Homo sapiens: one gene and its partners. The protein of the gene in region 3 purifies or fractionates together with the protein of the main gene of each other region. This does not show direct contact. Each region holds a gene or a part of one and is shown on either strand. Other genes may lie near its edges. The genes, in order: SLC30A1, SLC30A5, METTL9 and PITHD1.

The links.
Region 1: the proteins of METTL9 (region 3) and SLC30A1 purify together in Homo sapiens (co-immunoprecipitation; 3 studies listed by BioGRID and IntAct, with this or other methods). This does not show direct contact.
Region 2: the proteins of METTL9 (region 3) and SLC30A5 purify together in Homo sapiens (co-immunoprecipitation; 3 studies listed by BioGRID and IntAct, with this or other methods). This does not show direct contact.
Region 4: the proteins of METTL9 (region 3) and PITHD1 purify together in Homo sapiens (co-immunoprecipitation; 2 studies listed by BioGRID and IntAct, with this or other methods). This does not show direct contact.

The regions. Positions count from the first base shown.
Region 1 is NC_000001.11:211,570,795-211,576,427, forward strand, and holds the end of SLC30A1 (proton-coupled zinc antiporter SLC30A1), read right to left. Parts: intron 5,496-5,633; coding exon 4,594-5,495; 3' UTR 774-4,593; downstream 1-773. UniProt on the Homo sapiens protein: Zinc ion:proton antiporter that could function at the plasma membrane mediating zinc efflux from cells against its electrochemical gradient protecting them from intracellular zinc accumulation and toxicity.
Region 2 is NC_000005.10:69,110,623-69,118,161, reverse strand, and holds part of SLC30A5 (proton-coupled zinc antiporter SLC30A5), read right to left. Parts: intron 5,023-7,539; coding exon 4,935-5,022; intron 3,743-4,934; coding exon 3,666-3,742; intron 2,926-3,665; coding exon 2,755-2,925; intron 2,237-2,754; coding exon 1,948-2,236; intron 1,769-1,947; coding exon 1,560-1,768; intron 924-1,559; coding exon 766-923; intron 1-765. UniProt on the Homo sapiens protein: Together with SLC30A6 forms a functional proton-coupled zinc ion antiporter mediating zinc entry into the lumen of organelles along the secretory pathway.
Region 3 is NC_000016.10:21,594,593-21,602,813, reverse strand, and holds the start of METTL9 (protein-L-histidine N-pros-methyltransferase isoform 1 precursor), read right to left. Parts: upstream 3,238-8,221; 5' UTR 3,081-3,237; coding exon 2,916-3,080; intron 1-2,915. UniProt on the Homo sapiens protein: Protein-histidine N-methyltransferase that specifically catalyzes 1-methylhistidine (pros-methylhistidine) methylation of target proteins.
Region 4 is NC_000001.11:23,773,883-23,781,904, forward strand, and holds the start of PITHD1 (PITH domain-containing protein 1), read left to right. Parts: upstream 1-4,535; 5' UTR 4,536-4,633; coding exon 4,634-4,831; intron 4,832-5,555; coding exon 5,556-5,599; intron 5,600-5,981; coding exon 5,982-6,059; intron 6,060-8,022. UniProt on the Homo sapiens protein: Promotes megakaryocyte differentiation by up-regulating RUNX1 expression.

The DNA of each region.
Region 1 (5,633 bases), on a different chromosome or scaffold from region 3:
TTTGGTAGAGACCTGGTTTTGCCATGTTGCCCAGGCTGGTCTCGAGCTCCTAAGCTCAAGTGGATCTGACCCACCTCAGCCTTCCAAAGTGTTGGGATTACAGGCATGAGCCACCCTGCCCAGACCCCCAATTCTTTATACCACTATTCCTGCTCCCTTGCCTCTCAAACCCTACTCCTTTCCACTTTAACCTACATATCCTTTCCAAATTTTTTTTTACCTCTTCTTTGGAATATCTACTGTATATAGATCAATTCCTTTATCTACTGCCATTTATTGTCAGTTGATTTTTTCAACTGTTGTCTCACAGCCCAAAATACAAGTTCTTTAATGAATTTTTTTATGAAACTACATTTGTGATAGTCCTGAGGCTCATAGAACCACAATAATATACTATTGCGTTAAGAATTTTAGATGATTTACAGGTGTAAAATATTTAATAAACCTTATTAGTAACTATGCTTATAAATAAAAAAATAGCAAGTGCCAAAAGCAGCAGGTTAACCACAACTATATAATCTATAAGCTTAATGCTTATAATAAAATTCAAAGCCACTGAGTATTTCATATTAGTGAGCCTTTGCAGTGTTACCCTTTCAATTTTTAATTGCAATTTTTGCTTACATTTTCTTCCACACCCATCTTGTAACCTAGTCACTCTGTACACTTGCAACATTTGTGTTAAACTGAAATTTCTCTTTCAATTATCTGAAATCCAACTCTCTGTGTAACTAAGCCTAGTATCGGAGGGGAGGCCATATGCACAAATGAAGTAGATATTAAAATTAGTTTATTTTTCTACTTAACTTTTAATAAATGAGAAGAAACACAGTAGTCTGTCTCATATAGAACATTTATAATACATAACAATCCATAAAGCCTCATGGTGAGGTAGGAACAGCTTTGGAAAATAACACACAGTCATGAAAACATACAAAAAGTTAGGTAAAATGTTGCAGCACTAAAGATATTTTATCTGCATCTGTATTTAATGAGATGATAACTGCATTTAACTGGCCCACATCTGGCCCAAAGGACAGGCAACAGAAGACACAAAACAACACAACATATAAGTTTCATAATCACAGAATATACTGATACACTTCATTGTGCTGTTTCAAGGCAGAACCATAACATGGCAATTTGTGTCTTTTTATATATATATATAACCACATATTAATTGTATGTTACATTCCCTCCAGCATCTTTTTGCCAAAGACACTGGACCATAAAATTTTTGGTTTAAAAGTTTAAATTGAATAACATACAAAAGGCTCTTGTGCCAGTGAAAATGACTGCTAAATATTCCAGAGCTTGTTAGTAAAACAAAATAGCATTACCACATAGTATCGGTAGAGCTACATCAAAATAGTGCTATTATAATCCCAATTTCAGAGACGTGAAACACTGTATGACACAGTTTCAATTTTAAAAATGACAAACAAAAAACCCCTACACCTTCCCAAGAGTTTTAACACTGTTTATGACTTAACTGAAACTCAGTATTAAAATAAATATTTTTATATTGTAGAATTACTCTCCATATTTGTGTGAACATCTTAAGACAGCAGGTTAATGACATTTTTATCATTCAAATGATATCTGCTTATACACAGTAAAAATCTTCAACTCAACACCAGTTAACATACGAAATACTTCACATTAGGTTCCATAGGTCTTTTCCCTCAAAACTGTCAAAAATTCAAAATTAACTTAAGGATGTTAATAAGACACAAACGGTTAACACAGCCTTCTACCTACTGTGATTTTCCAAGGTGCATTTGATGGACATTTTTCCTATTCAAGTTACATACCTTAGTTATTCAACATACTGTTCTCTAAAATGTTAAAACACATACAGCAAAGTTTTTGAGGATTCTGTTTTTTAGGTTTTAGTCCATAGTTTTACAATGCAGACATCCTTCAGAAAAAACTAAGCAATCATAAAAGCTAAAAGGTGACAATGGAGAATTAAATCTCTCATCACTAAGGCTGCATTTGGCTTGGAAAAATTTCTTGGTTTTAATTCAGGCACATGCAGCACCTCCTTTTCACTAAACTGAGACAACAGACAAGTTTCTAAACACATATTCTACACTGATCTTGCTCAAATATAAAAGAGCCAGCAGGAGAGATGCAACTCCTAAAACTGATGCAGTGTTATAAAATAGCATATTTAAATATTGGGTTTAAGTCTCCTAATAATTCAGAGTATTTCCCTCATTTTCTTTCAGAAAGGAATAAGCTATTTTGAGAAAGACACTTAAATCCTACAATATTTAAATACAAAAGCATGTCTTTTTTAAAAGATAATGCTAATATAGCTACAATGGGTTAGAAAGTGCATTGTAAAGAAATAAATAATTCTCTGCTAAAACTCAAAAGGTGAGTCAGTGCCCACTGTTTCTGCCGACAGTCATTTGAAAAAAGAAAATCCTATGGTACCACCATTATATATAAGCTACTTAAAAATTATGAAAAGTGAAATAACTCAAACCTAAAGGCTGTTATCTTCAAAGCACTTTTGAAAAACAAACAAACATAGCCCTTGTCCTATGCTTATATACCATTTTTTAAAATCCTCATTCAGTTGATGTCTTGTACTTAGGTGTCATGCCATCTTTAAGACACAGACCTCAAGTAGAGCATTTGTAAAGAAAACCTCATTGAATGTAATATATTTTATCAGTTATCTTTGTATCATTGCTGAAATGTTTATGTAACAAATTGATATCTGAATAAAATGTTCTGTAAAGTATTAAATCAGGAATGTACATGATACAGTACAATTCACAGCTTTCTCTTCTTGTTCGCCCAGATGAGATCCCTCAATTTCATGTTTAAAAAAAACCACCCAAACCTTTTCGCAAAATTCAAGGTAACTATCAGTTTAGGAATTGAATTACACAATATCAGATAAGAATATTAAAAGATCAAGATGTATTGCAAACTGGCAGGTTATGGTTTTGGCCCATTATAGTAAATGTGAACTTACAAACTGTGTTCCTAAAATTACCATATTTTCACTGGAAAAAATCAGCTGTTCTTAAATAGGCCCATCGCCAGCAATAGGCTTATACTAGGAAAAACACACACCACAAAAGATCATCCCTTTAAAAAGTAACTGTCAAATCCTAACACTTTTTCCTCTTACAACCCATTAAACAATGAACTATTTTAAATCCCAAAACGTAGCCATCCCAAAAGTAGTCAGCTATAAAAGTAGTCAGAATACCTTGTTTCTAGAAAAATAGAGCTATACATAACTGATGCTAATATTAATCCTTTCAAGGACAAAAATCTAATTTTGTCACAAAGCATACCCTCTATCAAGAAAAATATAACTTAAACACCCTTAAATATTTGTGTTGGATTTGAAATCTATAGCAATAATGAAATAGCCACAATTTTCTGTGTAGATATTGTGGCATCTTGCAAAATAAGCCACTATTGGAAGATCTGAGTATGTGAAGACAGGATGACTTACAAAATCTTAATTAATTTTGCTTTAATTATTAATTTTGCTAAGAATTTAATATCCAAACTGCATTAACCTTCTGGTTTTCTTTCCTCTCAAGTCAGTGACTCTTAGAAAGCACAAACATTGCTGGTTGTGCTCAAAAAGCTCCATTTAAATCCATTCATGATTGGTTATCATGAAATGACCTTGAAAATTTTTTTTCAAACGCCCGGTTTAAAAGATTACATTAATCGTTTGCGTTTAGCATGTAATTATTAGGTGTCAACATCCTTAAAAATACTTATATATTTTGTAAATAAACTTGCAGCTCAATGTTTTTATACCAATCTTTCAAAGAAAGTAATGCTGGTGAACATGTCCAAGTTTCAGATTAACTTTGGTAGAATAAAAAGTTGAAATTCTCAAAATAATTTAGAAATGTAGTCTCAATATTATCATACAATAACCTAAATATTTAGTTTGGTAAACTTTCTTCCTTGCTCTTACTACCCCATTTGCCCCATTGTGTGTAAACTGTAGTTCAATTTGTTAATTATCTTACTGTTTAATAGCCAGCAATACAGAATACAGGATAGTAACTGATCTTATTTCCTACTAATAGCCATGAGTCACTCTTAAAATATGCTGCCATTATGCTATGTAATGATCTCAAAGGGCAATATCACCTAAAATGTCAAAGGAAACAAACTGTTGATGATTTTAAAGTTCTATCAATTATAATTCTAATAAAGTATAACACTGGGGGAAAAGAAAAGCAGAGAAATTCCAGTAACAATTTTATTTATCCCCCTAATTTTTATCATGGGAAAAATCCAGAAATCAAATGTCATTATGTTATATAAGGTTTAACTTACTTTAAACAAAAATGTAACATAGTGTTAAAACTGGCTTTCCAAAACAGTCACAGCATAGCTGTACTCTGTACTAATAATCACAAAATTGTAATATAGAACTCTGTTATGCAGTCCCATTATGTTCTTACAAAAATAGAATTAAACTGTGTGACCAGACAAGGACTTCAATTACACTACTTGGCAAACTTAGAATTTCAGTGGAGTCTTTTTCCTCTTGCAGTTTAAAGCAAAAGTCAAATATCACATCTTTTTCAAGACTCACAAAGATGATTCAGGTTGTTTGTTTGGCATGTTTTTAATCTCTATCACAACAGCAGGGATGTTTTCAGCTTTAGTCCTCCTGGGCTTCTTCTCTAGATTGTTACTAAGTTCTAAACAAGAAATGCTAACTGCTGGGGTCTTTTCTGCATCCTTTCCAGAAGGGGCTTGTGGTAGTGTCCCACAACATTGCTTCAAAGCACACTGGGTTCTGCAGGCAAGTTCACACGGAACTACACTTGATTTAGAGCCTACACTAGCAAATTCAGGCTGAATGGTAGTAGCGTGAATTCCGTGATTATGAAAAACGTCTTTAATGGTTTTAGCCACCTCCATGTATGATGTTGGATCTTCACATTTTATGTGAGCAGTGGCAATGATTCTGCTTCCAGCAAGTTGCCAAACATGTAATTCATGAACTTCCTCAACTCCTTCAACATTTCGAAGTTCTTTTATCAAATTTCTGATATCAATTTGTTTAGGAACAGTTTGTAGAAGAATAAGAGCAGATTCCTTAAGTAATGGATAGGTTGTGTAAAGAAGTATACAAACCATTACAACACAAAGAGTTGGATCTAAATATAGCACCCAGCAAGGACCAGCCTCATAAACTGATGCATGAGTACTATTAATTATTTCTACAAATGCTTTGCAGGGGTCAGGGAAACATGGATTCACACAAAAATCCCCTTCAGAACAACCTTTCCAAGAAAAGTAAAAGACTAAGGCATTTACTACTACAATCACTGAACCCAAGGCATCTCCAAGGACATGCAGAAAAACTCCACGCATGTTAAGTTGTCCAGCCCTATCTTCTTCCAGTTCCATATGGTCAGGTTCTCTGACAAGATTTCCATTCACTTGTACTTCCACTGTATCACCACTTCTGGGGTTTTCTGGGTCTACAAAGAAATAAAAATTTTATATCAAATACATTTAAAGTGTTTATATAAACATCCTTGTCTAATTCTTTTTAAGTGGTGATGAAGGTGAAAATTTTTTCAGAAAGTACAATTAAAAAAATGTGCTCAGAGCAATTT
Region 2 (7,539 bases), on a different chromosome or scaffold from region 3:
TCTGTCACCCAGGCTGGAGTGCAGTGGCACGATCTTGGCTCACTGAAAGCTCCGCCTCCTGGGTTCACACCATTCTCCTGCTTCAGCCTCCCGAGTAGCTGGGACTACAGGTGCCTGCCACTACGCCCGGCTAATTTTTTTTGTATTTTTAGTAGAGACGGGGTTTCACCGTGTTAGCCAGGATGGTCTCGATCTCCTGACCCTGTGATCCGCCCGCCTCGGCCTCCCAAAGTGCTGGGATTACAGGCGTGAGCCACCGCACCTGGCCCTGTCTTTTTTTTTTTTGAGACATAGTCTCACTCTGTTGCCCAGGCTGGAGTGCAGTGGCACGATCTTGGCTCACTGCAACCTCTGCCTTCTGGGTTCAAGCGATTCTCCTGCCTCAACCTCCCGAGTAGCTGGGGCTACAGGTGCGTGCCACCATACCCGGCTAATTTTTGTATTTTTAGTAGAGACGAGGTTTCACCATGTTGGCCAGGCTGGTCTCGAACTCCTGACCTCAGGTGATCCGCCTGCCTTGGCCTCCCAAAGTGCTAGGATTACAGGCGTGAGCCACTGTGCTCGGCCAAGGGAGCATAATCTTTGAGCTTAATTCCATTCAGTATTTATCAAATGCCCGATTCACATCCCCTTATTTACTTCACATTTTTTAAAAATGAAGATTTGGAAATTATTTGTATTAAAAGTAATATAAGTAATATAATTCTGTTCCTTAAGATGGAATTTGCACTTAAGATATACCACCTCGACAGTCAATGTACCTACCCATAGGAGAAAATCCGAGTGGCTTTCCACCTACTCATCAGGGCAGCAAAAAGTCCCATGACTAAAGCAGAGCAGTCAAAAAGCATGTGGAATCCATCCGAGATCAGGCCCAGACTATTGGTCAGCACGCCATAGAATAATTCCACAAAGGTAAAAAGCTAAAAATGTCACCAAAAAAAAAGGGAGGAGTATGTTGGGCACTGTTTCAATTAGGAGGATTTTAACCCTTAATTATCCAAATTTACTTGAAGATCTGCTATAATTGTTTAGTTATTTAACTGCCACTTACATTAGAAACCCTATTTCACACAAATTGTAAAAACTAAGATAAACCCATTTTACAAACTATTAAATTGTAAAAAACTAAGATAAATCCATTTTAGAAACTATTTAAAAATGGTTTTGTTTATATGTCTATAAAAATAATAAACTAGGTTATAAAATGTTAGCAATAGGTGATTTATAACACTGATTGCTAATAGTGAGATCCTGTAAGTTATTAGAACTCTTTAAATGCTACTATATTTACTGATTTGAAGGAACATACTAAATCAATGCTTCTAAAATGCCTCACAAATTGTTTGCTTAAGTGGCTGGGCACGGTGGCACATGCCTTAAGGATTGCCTAAGGAATCTGAATATGATCTCGTAATCTTGCTATTATACTTAGAAAAAATTTAAATTTTAGCTCATCTTATTATCAGAAATTTGGGAAGTACTAAACTTATACCAGAACTGTCAAAATTAAAATATTATGCTTTTAGGATATGTCAATTAACATTTAAAAATCTTACCAGATTCAAGCACAAGAAGTAAAAGATCTGCCTAGAGTCACTCTCCTCAAGAATTTGTTTTAGTGATTCCTTAATAAACCTAGGGATCGATTGAGAGCTATGCTGAAAAGCATCACCCATGAAGTTATAAAGAGGTGTTCCTTCAGGAGAATATCCAATAAGGGTACCTTTTTGTCCTCTCTTAGAGGGAGATGATAAGATATTGGCAGCTACAAAGAGAAAAAACAATATTGTTTAAATTTTCGAAGTTTAAGCTACCAAAACCAACACAGTAACTGTCGGCACTAAATGCAAGCACTGAAGAATTTCCCAAAATAAGTAAATGATGTGACCATCAAAATCCATAAATAGAAATTTGTTAAAATAAAAAAAAGGGGGGAATGCTTACACAAAATGAAGAATATAGCACTCACTACCACTCCTCCAGACAGGACGTGTTCAGTGCTCTCCTGGTGTGCTGCTTTGTTCATAGCCCGAAGCTGGTCTGTTATTGGATGTGTCCAAAAATTTCCAAAAAGGAGAGCACTAATAAAAATGGGAAAGGATCCATAACGAGCACATTTGGAAACTTCCATTTTGACTGAACAAATGGAATCCACGTAGAAATCCAGGATCATGACAAAAAAGATAACCGTTGCAAAAGGCATAATGAGAGAAAACCAAGACTCCACTTTACTCTAGAAATTAAAAAAAAGAATTGTCAAGACTATACATGTATAAAGTTCACATCTTACAAGATGTTTCTGTTAATCTTTTAAAAAAATAAAAATCGCATGATTCAATATGATTCATAATATGCCAACATATAAAAGCTATAAGATATTGGTACATTTTCTCAGTATTCTCCAAAGTTTTAAAAAACAAAAGCACTATTGTGTAATCATTCGATGAACACTAGGCGACACACAATCTTTAAGCCTAACACATGGTTAATTGCTCCTTCTTCAAATGATTCCTTTGGGCCATAGCAATGTGAGGGATATGTAAATGTAATAGCATTTGATTTGTATTTTCTATAAACAATAAAATTAACTCCAAATTTTTTTTAAAAAACTACAAAGAAAAAGCAAAGACAATTTAAGCCACTTTCAACCTCAAATTAAAATATAATTTATTGAATACAGTGAACTAAAAATTTAATAGCAATTCATTTTACTAGCAATTTAATACCAATAAATTCTTGCTCTTATCTTACCTCAGTTGTCACAGAAAGAACAATGACCCATGGGCACAAGAGAAGCACAGAAACAAGATGAGATAAAGCTTGAAGACGTTTAGCTCCACCAACGTCGACAGAGAGCTTTCTGGAAGCTGTATGAAAACCAACTTTACAACACAAAGCCAGTACTAGCAATAATACTCCACCCTGTGAGTAAAATTAGATAAGTCTCATTAGAAACACACACAGTTCAACAGTCAGTCGTTAAATACATGATCTTTTTTTTTTTTTTTTTTTTTTTTTTTTTTCCCCAGAGACAGGGTCTTGCTCTGCCACCCAGGCTGAAGTATAGTGGCATGATCACAGCTCACTGCAGCCTCAAACTCCTGTGATCAAAGAGATCCTCCTGTCTCAGCCTCCCAAGTAGCCGGGACTACTGGCACACACCACCACACCATGCTAACATAATATTTAAGGAAATGGAACTAGTATATTTTTCCCATATACTCAATTACGTAACTACTTAAATGGCCGGCAATGTTATAACTTACTGATAATTATTTTATTTTATTTTTTTTGAGACAGAGTTTCGCTTTTGTTGCCCAGGCTGGAGTGCAATAGCGCGACCTTGGCTCACTGCAACCTCGGCCTCCCGGGTTCAAGTGATTCTCCTGCCTCAGCCTCCAGAGGAGCTGGGATTACAGGCATGTGCCACCATGCCTGGCTAATTTTGTATTTTTAGTAGAGATGGGGTTTTTCTATGTCAGTCAGGCTGGTCTTGAACTCCCGACCTCAGGTGATCCACCTGCCTTGGCCCCCAAAGTGCTGGGATTTCAGGCGTGAGCCACTGGGCCCAGCTGATAATTTATTTTAAATGTACCTTTATAGTTATAGTTGCTACAACTTTTCAGAATCTTTTGATCCTGTTAGGAACAAAGAAATCATACCTTGTGATCTGCCACACCTAAGAAGGCAATGGCTGTGTAAAGCATATGAGTTAGAGCACTGTCATGATGTCCTTCAGCTAAGTGAGTTGAAGTAAAGGAAAAAAATTCCAAAAAGTCACTCTTTGACACCTGAAGTTCTCCTGAAATTTTAGTTACATTATTTTGGATTGCATATAGACTGATCTGGAGGCCTCAAACTTAATTACTTTCAATAACATGTTTCACTTAAAAACAAAACAAAATAAAACAATCTAACATTTAATTCCAGGACCTCATTTATAAACTGGAATGCCTGTATTTCTTTTGTTGTCTCCAAAACAATTATAATAGTGCTTAAGATAAACTTGCCAGATTTTAGTAGTTAACCTCTAAAAGACACATTGCATACATACTTTAAGAACGACAAAGGTACAAGAGCAAGGAATCTCCCTGGACCACTCCTGTCCAGTGGAATTAAGGTTGCCCTTTAAGACTGACATGTAAAATGAGTCCTAAATCTGTCTTCTAAGTCACTGACCACATAAGTCTTAGCAAATTAAGTGGCAAGCAAAAGAGGGTGGGGAATAGAGGTTGTATCACAAGCAACCTGGAGCTTTTCCAAAGTCACACTCTTCTCCCTCACTGTAACAAAGAAAATTATTATTAGTTTACTAATAAGTTTTAGGGCAGTGAGTATCAGTAATAGAAGAATAAAAACTGGTGCTTGGAGTTCTGCTGGATGGAGTGGGTAAGGATGTATGAATAGAAAATAGAAAAAAAGGCATGTTTGTAGAGTAAAATGAGTAGATATATTTGACTAGAAAGTTGGGTTTCTGTAAGAGAAGAGTTGGGGCTGAGCTAGAGATAATAATTTAGAGCAAGACAATGAATACTAGGTAAGGGAATTTGAACTTTTTCTTTCAGGCAAGAAGATACTAAAGGTTTTTCATTTATCAGCCTTTTAATTGTTAAATTATAAGGGAGCAAACATGTTGAGTGGCAAATCACCTTTTTTTTTTCCAGCACCAGGACATTCCAAAATATTCTTTCAATGTCCCTACATTTCTGAAAATTTAGGGTACTGTAGGTGATACAGAGATGCTATAAAATATTTAACTTATAATGAGTTTGTTCATTATTTGAATACTGATTTAGAATATCTACATTAATCTATGAAAGTTTCATTCATCATTGATCAGTTTAATTCACTTATCCTTTCTTTTTCCATTGTTCCAGGCTTCTAGTTTTCCTCAAGACTTGAAACAACTCTGATCTATTCCAAAAGGATACGGTGTTCAGCCATTTTAGCCATGAGATCATCATTGTCAAAAAGCAATAAACAGATCACAGCAATAATGAAAAAAGCAGCTCCCCTTGTCTGAAAATAAAGAAAACAACATCAAGGATGACTTTTTCAAGGGTTGATTTTTAAGACCGTAACTACATAAATACTAAAGAAAAACATTTTCTCAAGTAAGCATTTACAAAAATGCATTAAAAAACAGAAAAAAATCTGACATTAAAGCTCTTACATATTATAAGCTTACAGTATTGGCAGTAAGATATCAAAGAGATATAAACTAATGATAACATTGATTATCTCTTTGCTAACATGGCTGGGCATATTACTATGTACAAATTGGTACTGTTTACAGAATCAGCCTTCCTAAATGCTACTTTACTTCTGGTTGAAAAGCCCACGTAGCTAAAGAATAACTAGTAGGAACTTATTTTACTCTACAATATGCAAGGAATAGAGAATATTCTAGATACTACTCCTCTAGAGAAAAATAATCCAGAGGGCACGGTAAAACCAGCAAAGTCATTTCTAAGATCTAGTAAAGTACAAAGTACTTAAAAAGCTGATAAAATTTATGTTCTCATTCCAGGGAAAATTTTTTTTTTTTTTTCAGACAGATCTCGCTGTCGCCCAGGCTGGAGTACAGTGGCGTGAACACAGCTCACTGCAGCCTCCAATTCCTGGGCTCAAGTGATCCTCTTGCCTCAGCCTACCAAATAGCTGGGACCACAGGCATGTGCCACCATGCCTGGTTAATTTTTTATTTGTAGAGACCAGGTCTAGCCATGTTGTTCAGGCTGAGGAAAAAGGTTTTCATAAAAGAAAATTATAGAAAGGACATATTAGCTCGGTTTATGTAAATATTTCAGAATGGTAGCTTCAAGAGCAATCTAAATAGCATTACTATACATTCCTTTTTTTTTTTTGAGGAGAGTCTCTGTTGCCCAGGCTGGAGTGCAATGGCACGATCTCGGCTCACTGCAACCTCCATCTCCCGGGTTCAAGTGATTCTCCTGCCTCAGCCTCCTGAGTAGCTGGGATTACAGGTGCACATCACCATGCTTGGCTAATTTTTGCATTTTTAGTACAGACGGGTTTCACCATGTTGGTCAGGGTGGTCTTGATCTCTTGACCTCGTGATCCACCCGCCTCGGTCTCCCAAAGTCCTAGGATTACAGGCATGAGCCACTGTGCCTGGCTAAACAGCATTACTATACATTCTATATTTACAAATTTACAGGTATAACATGTCTTGTATGATACATATACTTGTAGAATACCTATTATATATAGATACATTAAGTGTATTATATATACCTATAATGGAAGTATAATACAATACTTCTATTAAAGTTTACAATGCAAAGTGAGGATACTCTTCATTCTATGATTACCACTATAATGGATAAATTCTGTTAGTGTGGTATTACAACAAAATTCAGTACACTACACATGAGAAAAACCATGTACTTTTAAATTTCTTAAGTTTTCACTGAGTTAGGATATGGCAACATCAACAACAATCAAATACAGAGAACATAACTTAATCTTTTTGTTAACAAAGAAGGCAACTGAGAATTTTGTAATGCTTCAGTCTCATAATTAAGAAAAAAAGGCCAGGCGTGGTGGCTCACGCCTGTAATCCCAGCACTTTGGGAGGCCGAGGCGGGTGGATCATGAGGTCAGGAGTTCAAGACCAGCCTGACCAATATGGTGAAACCCTGTCTCTACTAAAAGTACAAAAATTAGGCCAGGCGCAGTGGCAGGTGCCTGTAATTCCAGCTACTCAGGAGGCTGAGGCAGGAGAATTGCTTGAACCTGGGCAGCAGAGGTTGCAGTGAGCTGAGATTGTGCCACTGCACACCAGCCTGGGTGACAGAGTGAAACTCTGTCTCAAAAAAAAAAAAAAAGAAAAAGAAAAAAAAAGTCCGGGCGTGGTGGTTCACACCTGTAATCTCAGCACTTTGGGAGGCCAAGGCGGACAGATCACAAGGTCAGGAGTTCAACACCAGCCTGGCCAACATAGTGAAACCTTGTCTCTACTAAAAATACAAAAATTAGCCAAGTGTAGTGGCATGTGCCTGTAATCTCAGCTACTCGGGAGGCTGAAGCAGGAGAATTGCTTGAACCTGGGAGGTGGAGGTTGCAGTGAGCCAAGATGGTGCCACTGCACTCCAGCCTGGGCAACCCAGTGAGACTCCATCTCAAAAAAAAAAAAAAGAAAAAACAATCATCAAGTCCTGGACTGATGCCCTGATCCATTTCTCACACTAATGAGAACACTCTCACTTCTAGTTACTTAAGGAGGAAAACTTTTTTTTTAAATGTTTTCAAGTCATTTTTATTTCTTTTGTGAGTTGTCATTCCCAGTTTTTTGCTGATTTCCTGCCAAGGATCTTAAGCATTTTTTAAACTGAAATGGGTGATTTATACTTTGAAAGGAATGTAAAACTTATTTCTGGCAATTTTTGTTGTTAGTTTTTTGTATACACACTGATTTCTGTTATACGTTAAGTTTATAATCATTATGAAGCCAAATATAGTGAGTTTTCCCTTTGTGATTTTTTCCACTGCTTTTATGCTCAGAATTTTCTC
Region 3 (8,221 bases):
TGGTGGTGTTCACCTGTAATCCCAGCTACTCGGGAGGCTGAGACATCAGAATTGCTTGAACCTGGGAGGCAGAGGTTGCAGTGAACCAAAATTGGGCCACTGCGCTCCAGCCTGGGTGACGAAGCGAGACTCCATCTCAAAAAAAAAACACTTTATTTGTAGACACTGAAATAAATTTGAATTCCATAAATGAAACTTCATGTATTACAAAATGTTATTTTGATATTTTCTTGGTAACCATTTAAAAATATAAAACTATTCTTATTTCATAGGCTGTAAAATAAGTCTGTGAGACCAGTCTGGCCTCCCAGCCACTTCCCTGCTCTAAGTGAAACCCTGCTTCTTGCTTGCCCAAAGTGAAACATAATCCCAGTTTTGAAGCTAGCACACCAAACCAAGTTACTAAAATGGCACTGCTACTACAGTTTTAGAGCAGCTTTAGCCCAAAGGAGCCTTGCCTCTCCAAACTATACTAACAAAATAGCCATTTTTAACGAATAAACATTGCCCAAGATCTCTCTTTTAACCACAGAATCCTCCATCATAATTCCTTAATAAAATAACCAGAAGGAACACTTTTGCTAAGTATGGTTCAATCAAATCCACAACCCTACTTTTATGCAACTCCAAAAGGCCCAGATGTGGCTGGCTATGGAACTCACACACCCAACTGAACACTTAGAAGACCTTGTATAAAACTATTAATCTGAAGGAGGAAAAACAGTTACAGTTACTTCACAAGCAACGAAGTTATAAGGCAAACCCAGGATCCTGGAATATTAAGTGGAAAACAAATTATCAACTCCAGCCACAGTGCAGAAAGGACAGTTTCCTACTTTATCTCATGGTGGTTTCTACACACCTTTCTTCTGTTCCTTTTAATCTTTATTCATGCACGATTATTTTCATAATATGAATGTATTCATGTCAAAATAATGTCTGGATTCATTATTCTAAGGAAAAGAGTTGACCCATCCCCCAAATATTCAGAAAACACCATATTAAGTCTTCACCCTAAAGAAATTATCTGCTGAATTGTTAGTGAAGGGGTACACACACACACACACACACACACACACACACAGAATATAAATACGGTATCTGAAATAAACGTATCTGAAACCAGTATTAGTTTTCATTAGAACTTAACAGATTCAGCTTTTAAAAGGTACAGTCAGAAAGTATCCTCTGCTGGGAGATATTCTGAGGCTATGTCTACAGCTGCAATTCCGCCTCCATACACATCACAGTGTTGAAATAGTGTTTCAATTTTAAAATAAGTGCAATTCTTTTATGAGCACTAAAAACCTACCAAGTGGCTGCAGTAGGGGTAATCATGATAAGTGTTATAAATACCAATAGCTAAGAGACTCAACCATAATCCCCCATCAATGGAGATAAATCGCTTTTTCTCCTATCCAGGACCTTATTTCTATCAACTGCTTAAAAATGTTAAAAATGACATTTCTAATTCATTGTCTACCCCATTGTTCCATATGTGACATTCTGGTAACTGTACAGTCAACGGTACAGTACCTTTGAGTTGTCTCTATAAGAATGAACTAGTGTAAGCAAATAATCCATAGGAATAAATGTGGTTTTGCAATTTAAGTTTACATACATTCCTAACCATATCATACAAGTGATCAATGATACTGATATTGCACCTAACAAACTGCAATGGCTGGAGGCTTTCAAAAAAATTTACAGAAATTTAGGATTCCTTTAACAATAGAAAAAAGCCCAATATACATATTACTAAAGACTAAATGCTACTTTTCTAAATTGCTCTATCTCCTTCTTAGACAATTCTCTACCCTCATTAAAACACATGAAATCAACCTGGGTGTAAATTCTCTGAACACCTGGCATAATAAAAAAGTAATGTAGGAAAATGAGAAATATATGAAAATGATGAGACACAAGATGATATAGGGAATAATTAATACTCTATGGAAAAGCAAAATGTATTATAAATGCTAGCTATGACAAGCCAACACTCTGGCAGAGTTCAAAAGCCTCTTTTCAATGAATTTAACATTAACTGCAAACTATGTTAAGGTCATATACGAAATATCTCACTTAATTCTACAGTTAACCTGTACACGTTTAAGTGGCGCAAGACTGAGCTAATGAAAAGCCTACCTACCCGGTCACAGCGTAACGCTCACGATGCATAACTAAAACTCCCTCCCGTCCCGTTCTGTTTTAAAAACCCTTCCTGTAAAACTTGCATAATCTTCCTCCTCATCACACACAATCTTTCTAGCAGGCTGACTAAATCCAAGTTTAAAGGAGATCTCTGCTAGGTAGGAGGGGAAGGTTCCGTAGGATGGGAGCGACAACCTGTCAAACCCATTTTTTAAGTGCTTAGGGAGAAATGTCACCCCAATCAGCCTGGAGAGTTCAATGGCTTGCGATGTACAGTTACATTTCTTCACGACCCTTTGTACGTTCTGGGATTCAACGAGACAACAAGAGGGGCTGGCTTTTCGTTTTGTTTCTCGGGGTAATGGATCTGGCCGGGTCTCTTCAGTCTCAGGCCTCGGTGCCAGGCGGGCGCCCCCAGCCACGCTCTGGCCCCAAAGTTCCCCAGTCCCGCTGCCGGGCGTCCGCAGTCACCGCCCGGGACCCAGGAACAATGCGGGGCTCCGGGCCGCTCACGATCGGGCCCGGGAGGCCATGCCCCGCCTGCGCTGCGGAACAAAAGGCGCTCGCGGGGCCGCGGCCGGGTGCCCGGGGCTCGCGGAGTCGACGCCCGGCGGGGAAGGCGCGGGGAAAACTTTCCAAGGGGCCGAGGCGGAGGGGCGAGGGCCGGGCCGCCCCCTCGCGGAGCCGTCCCGCACAATAGCCGGGCCCAGCGCGGGAAGGCCGGGCCGCCACGCCCCCGCCCCGGCCCCGGCCCCAGCCCGTACCTGGTGGTTCTCCTTCCTGCCGCCCGCGGCCGCCGCCGGCCCACCCGGGCCGCTAGTCATGTTCACGTACAGGGAGCGGGTGAGCGGGCTCCGCAGCGTCCACATCCTCCGCGCCAGCCACACGGACGCCAGGCTCAGGCACAGCCAGCCCGCCAGCAGTCTCATCGGGGGCCGCGGCCGCTCGCTCGGATCACCGCCGGCGCCGGGGCGAGGAGGAGGAGGCACCGCCGCCTCCGGCCACCGCCGCCACCGCCCGAGCTCGAGCCATCGCGGCCGCCTTGCCCATCCAGCCCCCTTCAGGGCAAAGGCTGGGGGTGGGGAGGAGCAGCCGGCGCGCAGCCTCGGCACCTCCCCCTTCCCTTCCGGCCGCGGAACGCCGCTGCCCCCTGCACCAGTTTCCATCCGGAGCACTTACGAGCGGCCGCGTCGCTTTCTCCCCCGGCGCCCTCCCTCCGTCCAATGAGCGGGCCGCTGGGAGGCGGGACAAAGGGAGCGCGCATCCGCCCGGAGCGCGTTCTCGTGTCCCGGCCCTGCCTTGGCCTCTAGTAAATGGCGGAGGTGGTTTTAATTTTTTTGAGGGCTGAGGAGATCACTTCCGAAGGCGGTAACTGCAGCCTCCCTGCCCCTCCAAGGTGGTGCTGGAAGGACCTCCAGTCTTTCCTCGCCTCATCCCACTCCACGGCGGGACTTTGACAGGGTTACCTCTCGACCCTCATCCCACTCCACGGCGGGACTTTGACAGGGTCGTGCAGTTAACCCCGGGGGCGCAAAGAGGGGAGTCATTCCTTTCGTGCATCCTGACACACACAGGTTCTTCCCGGAGACGAATGGTGCCAGTGATGGTTGCCCGCTCGGATGCGTAGTTTCCAGTTTACATTTAGAACCGACCTGCCAGACTCCCTCCTCTACTCTCCCCACCACCACGACCCGCCTGCCCCGTTCCCCAAGCCTGAGAAGTTGCTGGCTACGTGTTTCTATAAAGAATGAGTGAAAATTCTGCCTTTTGGGGAAGCTACCGCAGCTGGGGTACCCACAAGTAATGTTTTAGATGTATTGATGGCCCTGCCCAAGAATGAAGACCTCAAGTTAGACTCCTTGGCTGCCTTGTTTCCTTGAATTAGCACAGGGAAGTTGGACCCAACACTCTTAAGAGTGAACTCAGCTCTGGGAGCAGTGTTTAACCCGGATATTTATTTGATCATTTATAACACGAGGAGACCTAGCAACATTTCAGAACTGAAGGGTTAGTTACACTGTGTTCCTGTCTGCAGTTCTTCCTGCTATTATCCAAGCCACAATTAAGGAGTAACATTTCGTGGGAGTCCCTAACTTTAATACTTTCCTAGGTTTGTTTGGAAAGTGCTTTTAATTTAACTGCACCAGAAATAATGTAAATGTGTCTAAGTTCAAAACAAAAGAAGTAAGCCTTTTGGTTAATTCAGCGTTGCACATCAGAGATTTTCATTTATGAAACAGTGGGGTGGTGAGCCACAGATGGGGAACAAAATCATTCCTTACCCAACAGCTTTTTTTTTTTTTTTTTTTTGAAACGGAGTGGAGTCTCGCTCTGTCTCCAGGCTGGAGTGCAGTGGCTCGATCTCGGCTCACTTCAAACTCCGCCTCCCGGGTTCAAGCAATTCTTCTGCCTCAGCCTCCCGAGCAGCTGGGACTACGGGTGCGCGCCACCATGCCCAGCTAATTTTTGTGTTTTTCGTAGAGACGGGATTTCACCATGTTGGCCAGGATGGTCTCCATCTCTTGACCTCGTGATCCGCCTGCCTCGGCCTCCCAAAGTGCTGGGATTACAGGCGTGAGCCACCGCACCTGGCCCAACAGCTCTTTCATTAGCTTTTAAGAATCTCAGCTTGGCACCTTTGGCTAACAAGGATATCTTGTTGCCTAATGTAACAGGCTGTAACAACAAACAAAAAGGCACAGGGTGGGTGGGGTTCGGTATTTTGTGTTCTCTCTTTCCAATATACTCCCTGACTGCTTCCTGCCAAAACCCCGAAAAGCCCAAGCCTTACTAAATCTAGTTCAAACCTCTAGTGGTCCTGGCCCAAGTCATCAAAAAGGAACTATGGTAGCAAGTCCAATAACTGTTTATTTACTATGACACCTCTCCTTCCTGTCTCTTAGGATCAGTGTAACAGACAAAGCAACTCTGTCACAAAAGGAAGCCTTCATCTTTTTAAAGTGGGGGTGAAAGCAGCAGGAGTGCATAAAATGGCATATTTCCTTTCTGAAGACAAAGGAGACAAAAAGGTATGCCCCAGCTATAGAGTGAGACCACATAGCTGTAGCTGAGAGACTGCAAAATGTTATCAGATGAACAAGCAAGTAGATGGCTGCTGTAGTCAGAAGGATTTTGGGGTCAGTTGACTGCCACGAAGCCTAACAGCTCAAAGGAGCAGATTTTGTTTTATATCTGAGCAGCTGGCCTAGAAAAATAAATCACTCATACATTTAAAATACTCTATAATAACCACCAAACACTCAAACCCATGCTATTTACATTTAGCAGGCACAGGAAGAAACCAGAGCATCCGATGATCAAATGATTTGCCTGAAGGTAGCAGAGTAAATTCAATAGCTGACCTTTTCATAGAACTTGGTATCCCAGCTCGTGGTCTTTCGATCCATCTAAGAAGCTTTGCTGTCTCTTCTCAGAGAGCCTCCTGAATTACAAATGAGGAGAAACGAAAACAGCAAGAGTAAATATACGAAGCAGAAGTTCAGATTGCCCACTGGGGACAGCCCCCTTCCTTCATCTACTAGAATGTCACTACCGTATATTAAAACCTCAATTCTCCATAATGGAGACGGGAAGGGGCAAGATGACACAAAAAGCCAAATAGCCAATACTCGTTCTAACATGATCTTGAGATGCAGTTAGTAATATTCAAAAGATACACAAATGACCCTCTGCACCGAACTCTGCTCATTGACCCCAGGTGTCCCACTTGGGTCACAGCCCTGTACACAGGCCCAAAATTTTGGCGGGATCACTTTCCTATCTAGATCTCTAGGCAAAGGCTTTTTGTTATTGTTGTTCTTTGAAGTTACAAAGCTTGGCATTTTCATATTCTCTTTTCAATTACAAAGTATCATGTTAAGAGAATCCACAAGCAGAGAGTTTGGATCTGTACAAAACCTATTGATGATTGTTATCTCCTTGAAGAGATAATGATTTAAAAAGAACTCATATAGACCAGGCAGGGTGGCTCATGCTTGTAATCCCAGCACTTTGGGAAGCCAAGGCAGGTGGATGGCTTGAGCCCAGGAGTTCAAGGCCAGCCTGGGCAACATGGAGAAACCCCGTGTCTACAAAAAATACAAAAATAAGACAGGCGTGGTGACATGCACCTGTAGACCCATCTACTCAGGAGGCTGAGGTGGGAGGATCACCTGAGCCTGGGAGGCTGAGGCTGCAGTGAACTGAGATTGTGCCACTGCACTCCAGCTTGGGTGACCCTGTATCAAAAAATAAAAATAAAAATAACTCATATAATCACTTTTTTTTTCCCGAGATGGAGTCTTGCTCTGTTGCCCAGGCTGGAGTGCAGTGGCACGATCTCGGCTTGCTGCAACCTCTGCCTCTCGGGTTCAAGCAATTCTCCTGCCTCAGCCTCCTGAGTAGCTGGGATTATAGGCACCTGCCACCACGCCTGGCTATTTTTTGTATTTTTAGTAGAGATGGGGTTTCACCATGTTGGCCAGGCTGGTCTCAAACTCCTGACCTCGTGATCCGCCTGCTGCAGCCTCCCAAAGTGCTAGGATTACAGGCGTGAGCCACTGCACCTGGCCATAATCATGTTTTTATGGACAGATATTTTTTATGCTTCTTAATATTGTTTTGTATACCTTCAGAGAAAGATACAGCTTTTTCCCAGTATATTCAATAGAATGTGTCCTGTAGTTATTAAGCAATGAGCACCTCTAACAAAATTAGCAAATGTACTCAACAATTTGTTTAATTAATTAACGTAGGAGATCTTTATCTGAATTTAGTTGATACAACTTCAATCCTGTGCAATGATATCACTGTGGGCTCCAGTTGATGAATTCTAAGTCAAGGCAAAACTGCAGACAGCTTTGAAAAAAAAAAAATTAGTAGCCTAGGCCAGGCACCATGGCTCATGCTTGTAATCCCAGCTACTCAGGAGGCTGACACAGGAGAATCGCTTGAACCCAGGAGGCAGAGGCCGCAGTGAGCTGAGATCATGCCACTGTACTCCAGGCTGGGCAACACAGTGAAACTCCATCTCAAAAAAAAAAAAAAAAAAAAAAGCCTCAAGTAGCAGAATTGAACCAGGGGTTAGAAGATGTTAGTAGTTGGCCAGGTGCGGTGGCTCACACCTGTAATCCCAGCACTTTGGGAGATTGAGGTGGGTGGATCACAAGGTCAGGAGTTTGAGACCAGCCTGGCCAACATGGTGAAACCCGGTCTCTACTAAAAATACAAAAAAAATTAGCCAGGGGTGATGGCCTGCACCTGCAATCCCAGCTGCTCATGAGGCTGATGCAGGAGAATTGCTTGAACCTGAGAGGTGGAAGTTGCAGTGAGCTGAGATCACACCACTGCACTCCAGCCTGGGTGACAGAGTGAGACTCCATCTCAAAAAAAAGAAGACGTTAGTAGCAAATACAAGTAACATCGTGTGCTTCATTGGAGAACTCCCAGTGCTACTCATTAGCATGGTAGTTTATCATCTGCACTTTGAGCCAGACTATCTGGGTTTTAAGCTGGGCTCTATGCTTCTTGATTATGCAATTTGAGGCAAATTATTTGACCTCTACATGTCTGTTTCCTCATCTGTAAAATGGAAATAATAATAATGGTTACCTATTTCATAAGGATGCAGTGAATATCATGTTATATACTATAAATATAAAGGGCTTAATAAGTGCCTCAACATTTAGTAAACACTCAAAAAATGTTAATTTGTTTTCACTTTAACTTGGGTAAATCAACCTCATCTGAGCCTCTCTTTCCTCATCTGTAAACTAAGAGCCATGGTTCTGAGCTGTCTGCTTCACAAGACGTGTGTGAGAATTAGATGATCTGAGAGTTTTTTAAACTGCAAAACATCAACCAAAGTTATCATAATAAAGATGCTCAGTCCTAATGTAAAATGCCCACGTGAGGGATCTAGGTGGCCATCCTGTAAGAATCTAATGTCTGATGATCTGTCAGAGACTTTGGTCTCTGCAAAGCTACTCTCTGTAAAACATTCTCTTAGAACCCATGACGATAGCATCTCTTAATAATGTGTCTATCTTCACACATGTGTCTATCCTCATGA
Region 4 (8,022 bases), on a different chromosome or scaffold from region 3:
AGAAGATCTTAAAAGCTTCCAGAAAACGGGGTGGGGTGGGGGGAAAACCCATAAAAAGAATCAGGATTCAGAACAGCATTGTATTTATCAAAGCCAGAAGAAAACCAGAGCAATTTCTTCACAATTATGAAAGAATTCTATCCACAGCCAAACTACTAATTAAGTACAGTAGAATAAAGCCATTTTCAGTGCCACTTAACATGTATGGCAGCATGGTAGCCAGCCACTAAGGTGGCCTCTAATGATTTCTACCTCCTGGTATCTGCACTCTTATGAAGTTCCCGCACACACTGAATATGGCTGACCTGTGAAACCATGGGATGTTGCAAAATTGACAATATGGGACTTCTGTGGCTAGGTCATAAAAGACATTGGTGGTTTCTACCTTGCCCTTAGATCACTTGTTCTGCTGAAAACCAGCTGCTGTATCATGAGGACACTCAAACAGTACTATTGAGAGGTCCATGTGTTAAGGAACTGGGGCCTCCTGCCAAGAGCCTGCACAAACTTGCCAGCCGGGGCTTCTCCAGCCCTGGCCAAGCCTTCATATGATTTCAGGCTCATGAGAGACCCCAAGCCAGAACCACCCAGCTAGGACGCTCTCAAATTCCTAACTCACAGAAACTGTGAGATGATAAATGTTAATTGTTGTTTTGAGGAGAGAGGCCATTTCTCTTACTGTCTCTGAAGAGAAGGAAGAAGTAAAAGCTGAAAAACAACAGGAATGAAGTCAGTGGCAAGACCAACTGATGCCACTTACCAGGCCTGAGGTTAAAGATTAACGCCCCCACCCTAACCACATGTGTTACCTATAGATCACTTGCTCAATCTATCACAACCCTTTCACGTGGACCCCCTTAGAGTTATAAGCCCTTAAAAGGGCCAGGAACTTTTTCTTTGGAGAGCTTGGTTCTTGAGACACAACTCTGCCAACGCTCCTGGCCGAATAAAGTCTCTTCCTTCTTTAACCTGGTGTCTGACAGGTTTTATCTGCAGCTTGTCCTGCTACAGTTTTAAGCCATTAAGTTTGGGAATAATTTGTTACACAACAAAAGACAACTAATACAGACCTACTGGGAGGGGAGGAGCCACAGTATTTTGCAGTTCTTCCAATCAGGAGGTGAAGTCTACAGTCTAGCTCTCCACTCTAGAATTTGGATTTGGCTGATGGGTCATTATAGAAAGATTATAGATGTAAGGCTTAAAAAGTGCTTGTGCTGGCAGGGCGCAGTGGCTCATGCCTGTAATCCTAGCACTTTGGGAGGCCGAGGTGGGCAGATCACCTGAGGTCAGAAGTTTGAGACCAGCCTGCCCAACATGGTGAAACCCCATCTCTACTAAAAATACAAAAATTAGCCAGGCGTGGTGGCAGGCGCCTGTAATCCCAGCTACTCGGAAGGCTGAGGCAGGAGAATCGCTTGAACCCGGGAGGGGGAGGTTGCAGTGAGCGGAGATTGTGCCACTGCACTCCAGCTTAGGTGACAGAGCAAGACTCCATCTCAAAAAAAAAAAAAAAAAAAAAAGTGCTTGTGCAATTGAGTCTTGCCCTCTCTTGCTCCTGGGAACTCTGCAATTATCACCATGTAATTTAGCTAGGCTTGTCTGCTGGAGACACGTGGTCCCATCATCCCAGCTAACAGCCAGCATCAAGCAGACGAGAGTGAGACCATCCCAAACTTTCCAGCCCAAGCTGAACTGGCCCAGAAAAGCTAATCCACAGGATCATGCGAATTAATCAATGTTTGTTGTTTAAAGCTATCAAAGTTTTAGGGTAATCTGTTACACAGCATAAGCTAATTGATACAGCATATTTACTTTGTGTGCACCTCCCGCCTCAACCTCCCCACCCTAACCAGGAAACTACTGATGTGTTACAAGAACACTACAGGATGTGTTCAAAGCCTGGTTACCTCCTAACTTTACCTAGTCTCAGACAAGTTAGTTTGCCTCTTTCAGCCTCAGTTTTCCTCATCTTCAAATTGGAGATAACAGTAGGTAATAGCACCTAGCTCTCTTTTTTTTTTTTTTGAGATGGAGTCTCGCTCTGTCGCTCAGGCTGGAGTGCAGTGGCACAATCTCGGCTCACTGCAACCTCTGCCTCCTGGGTTCAAGCGATTCTCCTGCCTCAGCCTCCCGAGTAGCTGGGATTACAGGCACACGCTACGATGCCTGGCTAATTTTTCTATTTTTAGTAGAGACGGGGTTTCACCATGCTGGCCAGGCTGGTCTCAAACTCCTGACCTCAAGTGATCTACCCGCCTCGGCCTCCCAAAGTGTTACAGGTGTGAGCCACCACACCTGGCTGTACCTAGCTCTTAAAGTTCATGTGACAATTAATTGAGATGAACTACATAATGTGCTTAGCACACAGTGCTCAAATAAATCATTAATGAAGGCAACAGGAAAAAGCCAAAATGAGTAGATCTCCGGGGTAAGGCCTGAGTTGGTTCTTCAAAAGGACACTCTTACCAAAGAAAGGCTACCAAGTATATCAGTCAAGTAAACATTTACTGTTTGCCACATTCCAGGTCCCTTACCTGAAACTGTGACCTAAAAGCAGGAATAATTCACGGCACTGAGCTATTTTGAAACAGAACCAAGCTTGCTTATTGCACAAGTAACTAAAATAGGACATCAAAATATTTTTCTTGTTTTTATTTTTTTGAGACAGTCTTGCTCTGACACCCAGGTTGGAGTGCAGTGGTATGATTACAGCTCACTACAGCCTCACCCTCCCAGGCTCAGGAGATCCTTCCACTTCAGCCTCCCAAATAGCTGGGACCACAGGCATGAGCCACCATGCTGGGCTAATATTTTTAATTATTTTTGTAAAGATGGGGTCTCCCTATGTTGCCCAGGCTAGTCTCAAACTCCTGGGCTCAAGTGATCCTCCCACCTTGGCCTCCCAAAAGTGCTGAGATTACAGGCATGAGGCACTGCATGTGGCCCAGAAAATATTTCTGAATGGAACTTGAAAAAATGGATATTTTGGTCTATACTTCACCAGCCCCACTGAGCACTCCAGAGCCAGATGTGAAGGGAAGAGGGTAGCCAGGGTATCCCATAACTCTCTTTCTGTATCCTGTCTTTTCCCCACCAGGGAGTAGGAAAACATTCTATCCTGAAAACAAGATTATTTCACCTCTAAACAGTGACTTTTAATTATTTTGATCTCAACCCACAATATGAAAAACACATCATATTGTGTCTGAATACAAACTCAAAACTGAAACAAAAGTTTCATCAATTGAGACTTGAAATGTGTGATACATTCTGGGTTTTTTTTTTTTTGTATTCTATTTTTTTTTTAAATGTTGATCACAATTCTCTATAAACGGATTTTAAAACCTATTGACAGGCCACAACCAGCTGTTCGAAAAAAAGTACTTTGAAATATCACATGGGGGAGGAAACGCAGAGATCATCTAGTCCAATCCCTTCACTTCACAGGGGGTAAACTGAGTCTCAGAAGATCAAGTCACTTGCCCAAGGCCACGCAGCTAGTAAGTTGCTGTGGTTGGATTTGACCGTAATAACCATCGGCTACTGAATGCCCATCATGTGTCAGCCATTTGCTGAGTTTTTTCTTTTTTTTTCTTTTTGAGACAGAGTCTTGCTCTGTCGCCAGGCTGGAGTGCAGTGGCGCGATGTCGGCTCACTGCAACCTCTGCCTCCCGGGTTCAAGCGATTCTCCTGCTTCAGCCTCCCGAGTAGCTGGGACTACAGGCTCGCGCCACCACGCCTAGCTAATTTTTGTATTTTTAGTAGAGACGGGGTTTCATCATGTTGGCTAGGATGGTCTCGATCTTTTGACCTCGTGATCCGCCCGCCTCGGCCTCCCAAAGTGCTGGGATTACAGGCGTGAGCCACCGCGCCCGGCCTGCTGAGTTCTTTAATTGCATTATTTCATTTAATACTCACTGTGATCCTATGAAACAGATACTATTCTTTCCACCTTACAGACGGGGAAACGGAGTCTCAGAATAGGGGAAATGACTTAAGGTGTCACAATGGCCAGTAGCAGACCCAGGAGTAGTCTTTAGGTCTGGCCGTGCACAAAGCCCCATGCTCTCAAGCTGTAACCCCGCTATCAAGAAAGTGGTTATGCAAGTGGGCCTGTGAGCTCTCAACGTCTAAGCCGTGCGCATGTGAGACAGCGATAAGCTCGCGTTCTCCAGTCTCCAGGGCCTTATCATTCCTCACGCTTTCCTTCATCGGCTCGCAAAGAAACGTGGCGATCAAGGAAGACAGCGAAGGCTCCATCCTCGTCGGGGGAGGATAATTCGAATCTCAGCCTGTGAGTTTACTCAGCACACCTGTTTAATCTCTTGGTCCTTCAGTTTCCACACCTAGGAAGCTGGAACAGCAGCAGCATCCAGCGCCAGGACTGGAGTCATATACGAACTCTGGCACCTGGGAGGCGCGCGTCCTACGTCAGTTCCGCTCGACCCCACCCCCCCCGCCCCCCCGCCTTCTCCCCACGCGCATGCGCCGCGCAGCGGCGCTTTTTACGACGCGGCAGGCGCGGCGCGCTTAGTTGCCGGAGCTGAACGGCGCGGAGCTGGTCTGAGGCGAGCCGAGCCGAGCGAGCGCGGCGGTGGGGCCGAGAGGACGCGCAGGTGGCGGCGTTGCCATGTCGCACGGTCACAGCCACGGCGGGGGTGGCTGCCGCTGCGCCGCCGAACGGGAGGAGCCGCCCGAGCAGCGCGGCCTGGCCTACGGCCTGTACCTGCGCATCGACCTGGAGCGGCTGCAATGCCTTAACGAGAGCCGCGAGGGCAGCGGCCGCGGCGTCTTCAAGCCGTGGGAGGAGCGGACCGACCGCTCCAAGGTGGGCCGCCTGGGGCTTGGGGCGGGCGGGGCAGGGTGCGTGTGGGGCCTCGGGCCGTCGGTCTACTCATTTCTGATGTTAAGAATAACGACAGCCTGGTTGCCAAGCGCTTTTCCGTGCCTGTCTCCTGCCAGCTCTTTGGGAGGCGAGCAGCGTTGTCTCCCCATTTTGCATATAGGGAAACTGAGGCCTAGAGGGAACGGGGACAGTTTTGTCAAGCTACACAGCCTAACGCTCTATTCCAGGGCTGTGTGGGCTAGAGAGGATGGTCGTGAGGGCCGTTGGACCATTGGTGCTAATGGCTGCCTCATCATATTACCTGGTGAAGATGAGCCTAGGGAGATGAAAGGTGGTTCCCATATAGAGCAAATGTTCTTTACATTGTGGGGTCGCAGGCCCCTTTGCTATCTGTTTGAAAGCAGTGGACCTTCTTCTCAGAAAAATGCACATAAACACCTGCCTTTCAGTTCACACTTCAGAAGGCTCTTCGACCCTGGAAATTCATTCATGGGCTTTTTGTTAAGAACCTTCCAGTTGGGTGGCCTGTGGCTGTTATGACACTGGATAAGACTGGTTAGCTTCAAGTTAATAAGTCTTGGAAAACCAAGGGAGAGTGACTCTTCCCATTGCACCCCAGTTGTAGAGCAGGGTGGGAGATGCCTGAAATTGTAGGCTCTCAGCAAATATTTGTTGCTTTCTCCTCCCCCCTCCCCATCCCCTCCAGTTTGTTGAAAGTGATGCAGATGAAGAGCTTCTGTTTAATATTCCGTAAGTATCTCCTTGGTGCCTACCTCAGGCTAAATAGGCTGTACCCAGTTGCCTCAGATGGATTCATTCACTGGTGTCAAGAGCACACATTTGCTTCTAGAAATGGGATAAATTACTTTGGTGGGTTTGAGGAGGAAAGCATCATAGCTTTCTTGGTGCAGACTGGAAACAGATGTATTTGTAGAACAATAACTGAGAAATTGAGGTAGATTTCTTAGAATTGTAGAATGCTAGAGGTAGACAGGATCTTAGAAATTATCTAGTACAAGTTGACAGATGAGTAAACTGAAGCCCATACAGGGGAAGGGTCTTGCCCAGGGTCACACAACTAAACAGGTATTCAAACTCAGGTTTGACAACCTTCTCTTTTGCATTCTGGCAGATTTACGGGCAATGTCAAGCTCAAAGGCATCATTATAATGGGAGAGGATGATGACTCACACCCCTCTGAGATGAGACTGTAAGTGGCAAAGGCTTAGGCCCTCAAAGGAGCTCCTAATTCTCTTTTTCTGGTAACATTTTATTCCAGAATAGTATCATTTTCTTCTTACCGGGTTTAATATTTCCCCTTTTAAAATATCTTGGTCCTGTTCTCATTCTGCATTGGAATACATATATTTCTTCCTGAATTAATGACTTTTTTAGATTAAGCATCTTTAGGCCCAACAGCGTGTCTCATATTTCAAAGTGCTTACTATGACATGATTCATTCAGAGAGCATTGTGTAAATGTCACTTGTTGATGACTCTGCAGTTTTCTTAATAACTAGCTGCAGATCTCATATGATCTTTATGGATTCTAGGGGTTAGCTTCAACATTTTTCCTTGCTATTTCATACAGTAATGATCTTATGTGTTTTGTTGACATGGAATTGCTCCACCTGACTTTGCGTGGCATTTAGTTAGCAAAGTTGTGTATACCTCTTGCAACACTGAATCTTTTGCCACCAGAGCTAGTACCCTTTTTGACAACTTACCTTATTCCAGAACAGCCTTCCTAAAAGAAGGGGAAAACTGCTTTCTGAGTGCTGGAGAAACATATAAGAAGAACTTTACATTTAAAAAATTCAGTCCGGGTGCAGTAGCTTATCTCACAAAACCAATAAAAGATGATATATAGGCTGGGCACAGTGGCTTACACTTGTAATCCCAGCACTTTGGGAGGCTGAGGCGGGCGGATCACCTGAGGTTCGAGACCAGCCTGGCCAACCTGGTAAAACCCCGTCTCTACTAAAAAAACAAAAATTAGCTGGGCCTGGTGGTGCGTGCCTGTAATCCCAGCTACTAGGGAGGGTGAGGCAGGAGAATTGCTTGAACCTGGGAGGCGGAGGTTGCAGCGAGCCGAGATCTCGCCACTGCACTCCAGCCTGGATGACAGAATGAGACCCCATCTCAAAAGTAATAATAAAAACAAATAAATAAAAAATTCAAATCCTAAAGGCCGAGCATGGTGGTTCACACCTGTAATCCCAGCACTTTGGGATGCCGAGACTGGTTAGGAGTTCAAGACCAGCCTGACCAAGATGCTGAAACCCCGTCTCTACTAAAAATACAAAAATTAGCCGGGCATGGTGGCACACGCCTGTAATCCCAGCTACTTGGGAGGCTGAGGCAGGAGAATCGCTTGAACCCAGGTGGCAGAGGTTGCAGTGAGCCAGGATCGTGCCACTGCACTCCAGTCTGGGTGACAGAGCAAGACTCCATCTCAAAAGAAAAAAATAATTCAAATCCCAGCACTTTGGGAGGCCGAGGCGGGCGGATCACTTGAGGCCAGGAGTTCAAGATCATCCTGGTCAACATGGCGAAACCCTGTCTCTACTAAAAATACAAAAATTAGCTGGGTGCGGTGGCACAGGCCTGTAATCCTAGCTACTGGAGAAGCTGAAGCATGAGAATCACTTGAACCGCGGAGGTGCAGGTTGCAGTGAGCCAAGATTGCACCACTGCATTCCAGCCTGGGCAACAGAGTGAGACTCTGTCTCAAAAAAAAAAAAAAAAATTCATCTGAAAAATTGATTAAAGGACTTCCAGAGATTTAAGATATATTATAGTTGAGTATTAGAAACATGAATTTGAAAGCAAATCCATGTATTTAATCATTTTAAGGAAATAATACCTTTGATGCTTTTGGAGACTCATTTACTTGGAAGTTGATGGACTGACCTGAGAATATTAGGCATCCATGCTGCATTGTGATTTAGAGTGTGGGATCTGGAGTAAACTGGGTTCAAATAATGGCTGTACCACTTGTTAGCTTCATGACTTTGAGACCTTATCTTCTCTATGCCTGGATTTTCTATATCTAACATGGGAATGGTAACAGTGCATACATACCTCATAAGATTGTGGAGAGGCTTAAATGAGATAAAACATGTAAAGAGCTTAGATTAGGTCTGGAACACAGTAAGTGTCCAATTTTGGGTG